Regions from separate parts of the Homo sapiens genome. Here region 1 is linked to region 2. The links come from fine-mapping of genetic effects on gene expression. A gene starts in region 2. The other region holds a variant in brackets. All regions are shown on one strand. Distances are between the middles of the regions.

Region 1 (2,500 bases), 59 kb after region 2:
ATAGCAGTGTCCTGCGACTGGGCTGGAGACGTGGCTGAGGGAGGCCAGGGGGCCTCAGAGTGCACGGGAGGAGGCTTACAGAGGTCTTTTGCATCCTGCAGAACACCACATGTGTCCTTCCCTCTGGGAAACCTCCCACCCGGGCAGGGCCTCTGGGGCCGGATGTGGAAGGTAAACAGGCTGCCTTTCTGCTCTCTACCACAGACAGGCCCGGAAAGGCCTGAGTAGGAGCTTTTCATCTCAGGAAGCCCTGAGGTCCCACAGCTTCTCCTGAAGCAGCCTCATTGTCCCTTTGTAAGAGCATGACCAGGTGCTCTAGCTCCTGGAGCACCAGTGGAGAACTAGAGTGGCCCAGGTGCTGATGCCAAGTTCGAGCAACAGCTCCTGGCGGGTTTCCCTGCATCCCCCCACTCACTCCCATCTATTCTTCACATAGGGGCCAAAGAACATCCTGCTTGACATCTTGATCAGTGTCCCTTGCCCTCAGGATCAAACCTGCAAGTCCCCAAGGCCCTGCAGGATCTGTTTTCTCCTCTCTGTGCTCCGGGCGCATGCCAGCTGCCTCTCTGCTCCATGCTCATTCCTGCCTCCTGAGGGACTTCACACGGGGCCCTTGCCTCTGCCCCTTTCGCCTCAGCTCGCCACCTACCTCCTCCTCATTCTTCAGATGGCAGTTTATGCTTCACTATTTGTAGGGCCGTCGCACCTGACACCTCCAGCCTAGGTTAGGAGCATGTCCATCACCTCTACTTCTCCTTTTAACTCCAACCATCCTTGGCTCTCCCTCTCGAGGGTCACGAGAGCAGAGAGAGAATCTATTTTGTTCACCACTGTGTCCCTACCATGTGGGACATTGTCAAGGCAAATGTAAGTGTGCACTAAATAAATATGTATTGAATGAATAGATAGCCAAACAGACAGAATGGATCTGCCACAACACAAACAGGATGCTTTTCAAGTGGGCAGAAGATGGAGACATCACTTGTCGAGACACTCAAACAAGTGGCTGGATGGATGAGTGGCAGATCCATTCTGTCTTTCTGCTTGGCTTTAGGAGTAGAGGGATCACCCATGGTCCATCCTCTGAGGACAAGGGTATCATGACCGCCCAGGCCCCACTCACCCCTGCCAGGCTCATTGCATCCCATCTAAAAGTGTGCTCTGGAAGGTCATAAGAAGTCCTCACCTGGGACACTTCTAGGCCCAGTGTTCAGCCAGCTGTCCTGAGTTCTGCATCAGTCCCTGCTAGATATGAAACACAAACAGGATGCGATGCTTTTCTTTTTTTTCTTTTTCTTTTTTGA[G/A]ACGGAGTCTCGCTGTGTTGCCCAGGCTGGAGTGCAGTGGGTGCAACCCCTACCTCCCGGGTTGAAGTGATTCTCCTGCCTCAGCCTCCCAAGTAGCTGGGATTACAGGTGCACACCACCATACCCGGCTAATTTTTGTATTTTTGGTAGAGACAATGTTTCACCATGTTGGCCAGGCTGGTCTCAAACTCCTGGCCTCAAGTCATCTGCCTGTCTCAGCCTCCCAAAGTGCTGGGATTACAGGTGTGAGCCACCGCGCCTGGCCAAACAGGATGCTTTGCAAGTAGGCAGAAGAGGGAGACATCACTGTCCCATGGAGAGGTGGGAAAATCATCGTTAGCACAGGATAATTCATCCTATTTTGTGCTCATGTTTACTGAGCTAGGATTGACCTGTGTCCGGGCAGCAGGGACACAGAGGTGAGTAAGACAAAGAGAAGGCCCTTGCCCTTAAAAATGATACGTGTGGCTAAAACGCTGTAGACCTTTTTGTTTTTTCCTTTTTGAGACTTCCTTTTTATACAGAAATTGCTACCTGCAGGTAAAATTAACTTACATCGTGAAAGCGACAGTAAAGTGTTTCTAGGGATAGCTAAAGACCTAAGAACACAGCCCTGTGGTTTGACTGGCTGGCCACCTTCCTGCAGCTGGGTTTACTATGGTGCTGTGTTCTGGGACAGCCCACTCGTCTCCATTTATTGGGCTGAGCCTCGAGACCTGCAATACCAGGGAAGGAAGGGAAGTCTAGGCTGTCTTTGGTGGCCATTGTTATTTATGGGGCATCGGCAGAGAAGTCAGTACCATGGAAAATCTAGAGAAAGATAGAGGATACGCAGTGTGGTTGAGCAGAATCTGATAGCTCCCTGGCTCTCTCCGGGCCATGGGACCCAGGGCGACACAGCCACCCTTTTTCTCTCTGCTGTCTGGCTTGGGCTTGGGCTTTGTCTCCTGTGTCCCTCCACACCTTCTTCGCTGTCAGTGGTGACCAATCCCGTGGAATCAGCCACTGTGTGTTACCCCAAGTCCTTGCCCCTGGGACCTCGCTCTGTTCGGAGACAAAACCCGGGACTGTTTCTCCTTTTAAATGCAACCTTGTTCCACAGGAGAGGAGAAAAGCAAGAAAGAGGTGGCTTGTTTATCTGATGGTAGTGGGGTGTGCTCTGATATGCCTTTGAAAGGGGCCCAGCTTTGCTTTGC
Region 2 (3,012 bases):
GAGAAAAGGCAGCTCGCATGGGGAGAGAGCTACAGGGGAGGTGATCCCAGTGTCCCAGGAGGCGAAGGTGGGGATGTGGGGAAGGAGCTCCATGTTCCCTCCTCACCAGGCTCCATCTTCACCATCTTCAGTGCCACCAGGTCCCCTGACACCTTGTCTCGAGCCTTGCAAAGGGGAAGTTGGCAGTCAGGCAGGCTCCATTTGCCAGAGTCCCTCCACAGCATCCCTGAGTCAAGGTCAAGAACTGGGACCCCCTCTTGCAGCCTCCTCCCTGCCGAGGGCTTGCCTTAAAGGTCACTGGTTGTAGGGTGTTGGGGACAGAGGGGCTTCCTCACCTTAAAGACTTCCCCATACGTGCCGCCACCCAGCCGCTGTAGCAGGTCATAGTGGTCCCGGGGGTCTCTATTGAAAATGTCAGGGTCCACGACGTCCATCCCTGGGGGCCTGAGCTGGGCCTGCGCCCAGGGGCCAGCAGGGCCTCAGGGCTCAACTTCTGGCACCTCCCTCCGTCCCCAGAAGCCCTGCACCCGCCTTGCCTCCGCGGGCTGTGGCCTCCCCCCTCCTCACTCTCGCTTCCTGCCCCAGCTGCACTGCACGACTGTGCAACGGGCTCCACCCCCCCGTCCCCTGGGCTCTGAGAGCCTCTGAGGGGCAGCTTGTCTTGGGACCCAAGGGACCACCCTCAACCTCCAAGGCCCAGGGCTGGATGTAAATGTGATGCAAATGATCTTAATCGTAACTGGGTTGGAGGGGGGTGCCTTAGAACCCCCGCCCCCGTCTCCTAGGTAGTGTCTAAACCTCTGCTGGGTGCTTGAAGGTTTGGCCACAACCCGAAGGCGGCAGGTCTGCAAAGGGATGGCTATGCAGTGTACATGCCTGTTCACCTGTCACATACATGCACTTGGGTTACCTCCTCTGCACTGCGCAGGCGTGTAGACGTGCATCTGCCTGGATACCTGTGTGCACAGTACACACGTGGATGTACCCAGGACATATACCTCCACATGCATGGCACATAACTGCATTTTGTAGGCCTGCAGTGTACAAAACCTATACATAATATATAATTCATGGCAGTACAAATGGGACGCTCGCCCTCAGCTCCAAGACCGGAACCTAATGGAGACGGGGCGCGATCCGGCGAAGTCCAGGAGCCCTCACCCCAGCCCCTGCCCGGCAGAGCACAGTAGCTTTGTGGGACCCTCCTCCTGGAGCTGGGGACCAAGGGCTGAGACTTGAAACTGGAGAGCTCAGGATCCTGCACCAGGCGCCCAGGCCTGTGGCAAGAGGGACCTCAGAACACCTCCCTCGGAACTTGGCCATGGCCTAAACGTAAGGCTGCTGCGTGCATTCCCGCAGAGCTCCGTGGCCTCATGGCCGCGCGCAATACAACGCGCGCGCACGCCGCCAGAGCTCCGGGTGCTTCCCGGTGAGTTCGCGCGCGCACGCTCCCGCGCTACCGGCACTGGAACTGGGTCTGTGAGGCCCGGGAAAAGCTTAGCCCCGCCCCCTCGCCACGAGAGGCGCCTGCGCACTGGGATCCAGTAAGATTTTTCTCACGCTGTCTGTCCAGCTTGAGTGGCGCGAATGCGCACGCGCCAATTGCGCCTGCGAGGAAGAAGTCACGTGGCAGCCGGAAAGCGTGGCGGCTGCTGCTAGAGCCTTTCCCTTTACCGCACCCAAGGAGCTGGAGCGACAACAACGACGTCGTTTCCGTTTCCACCACCTCTTCCTGTTCCCGTCCTTGAGGACGCCGTGCCGGGTCAGTGTTAGCCTCCAGCCCTGGTTGTGGAAGGCGACAGAAGTCATGGCGATGTTTGAGCAGATGAGAGCCAACGTGGGCAAGTTGCTCAAGGGTATCGACAGGTCTGAGCCCGGTTGGAGGAAGCGCTCTGGCCAAGCGGGGCGGAGGAGAGGGTTTTCCGGAGACAGCAAGGGGTGTTCAGGGTCCTGGGCTTGCCGCGGGGTGGGGTTTCTCTATCCTCCTGGAGGAGGAGATGCTTAAAGAAACGGCACTGAGCTGGGGGTAGTGGCTCACGCCTGTGATCCTAGCACTTTGGGAGGCCGAGGTAGGTGGGTCGCCTGAGCCCAGGAGTTAGAGACCAGCCTGGGCAACAGCCAAACCCCGTCTCTAAAAGAAAGAAACAAAAGCACTGCAAAGGCCTAGAAGCGAGAGAATCTTGGTACCACTCAGTCTCTTCGTAAATTGCCTTAAGGTTTCCTTCTCTGCTCCGCCTCCTTTGAGTGCCTCTTAATCTCTCCCTTCTCTGCTCTATAAGTCATTCATTCTCCACACGTTTACTGAAATAAACTGTCAGTGCTAGGCAATGCTGGGAACCACAGGCGAATCAGACAGCGGCAGATCATGCCTTCACGGTCTGAGTTCCCTTTCCATAAGGGAGACAAACCTGACAGCAGACAGCGATAGCCGGGAGAGATTAGAACTGAAATGGGGGAAGCAAAGGCCAGAGTGTTCAGGTGGACATGGAGGAAGTAGGCAGCGAGGTAGGCAGGAGAGGATGGGGCTGGATCAGGGTGGAGGCCTGAACAGGGGAGGAAGGGGTGAGTAGCAGAGACATTCAGGAGGCCAGGTGTACAAGCTGCAGTGACTGACTGGCTCAGAGGTTGAGGAGGCATCCTAGGGAAGAGCCAGGGCTCCAGTGGAGTTTAGAGCTTAGGCGAGAGGTCTGGGATAAGAATAAGTTTTACTAGAGATTATACTGGACATAATTCACTACCTGGATAGAGCAAGTGGCCAGTGCCAGATTTAGAGGGGAAGGGCGGGAGGAGCAGGTTACAGTGGCCCCTTGCTCCATAAGGTGGCTGGCCTCAGCTTCTGTCTCCTCTGTGCTCACCTATCTTGATTCTCCTTTAGGTACAATCCTGAGAACCTGGCCACCCTGGAGCGCTATGTAGAGACGCAGGCCAAGGAAAATGCCTATGATCTGGAAGCCAACCTGGCTGTCCTGAAGCTGTAAGTGTCTAGCTCTCTGTCTACACTCCCATTGCAGC

The links. PIP is the estimated chance that this variant, and not a neighbour inherited with it, causes the effect. A credible set is the group of variants that fine-mapping cannot tell apart.
Region 1: its variant is the best candidate, but not a certain one, in a credible set for the expression of EIF3K in whole blood (INTERVAL, PIP 0.50).

Annotation. Positions count from the first base shown.
Region 1 is chr19:38,676,458-38,678,957 of GRCh38, forward strand. All of the region lies in intron 1 of ACTN4 (actinin alpha 4), which reads left to right. Among named protein-coding and RNA genes, the nearest start is that of ACTN4, 30 kb to the left of the region's middle. RefSeq lists enhancers at 1,166-1,325, 1,742-2,327, 1,932-1,991. The variant G/A (reference allele first, on the strand shown) is at 1,305.
Region 2 is chr19:38,617,462-38,620,473 of GRCh38, forward strand. EIF3K (eukaryotic translation initiation factor 3 subunit K) reads left to right here and starts at 1,727. Exons shown (of 8, transcript NM_013234.4): 1 at 1,727-1,866; 2 at 2,876-2,974. The coding sequence starts at 1,808. It overlaps MAP4K1 (mitogen-activated protein kinase kinase kinase kinase 1), which reads right to left and starts at 492. Exons shown (of 31, transcript NM_001042600.3): 1 at 336-492; 2 at 107-164. The coding sequence starts at 434. RefSeq lists an enhancer at 1,016-1,065.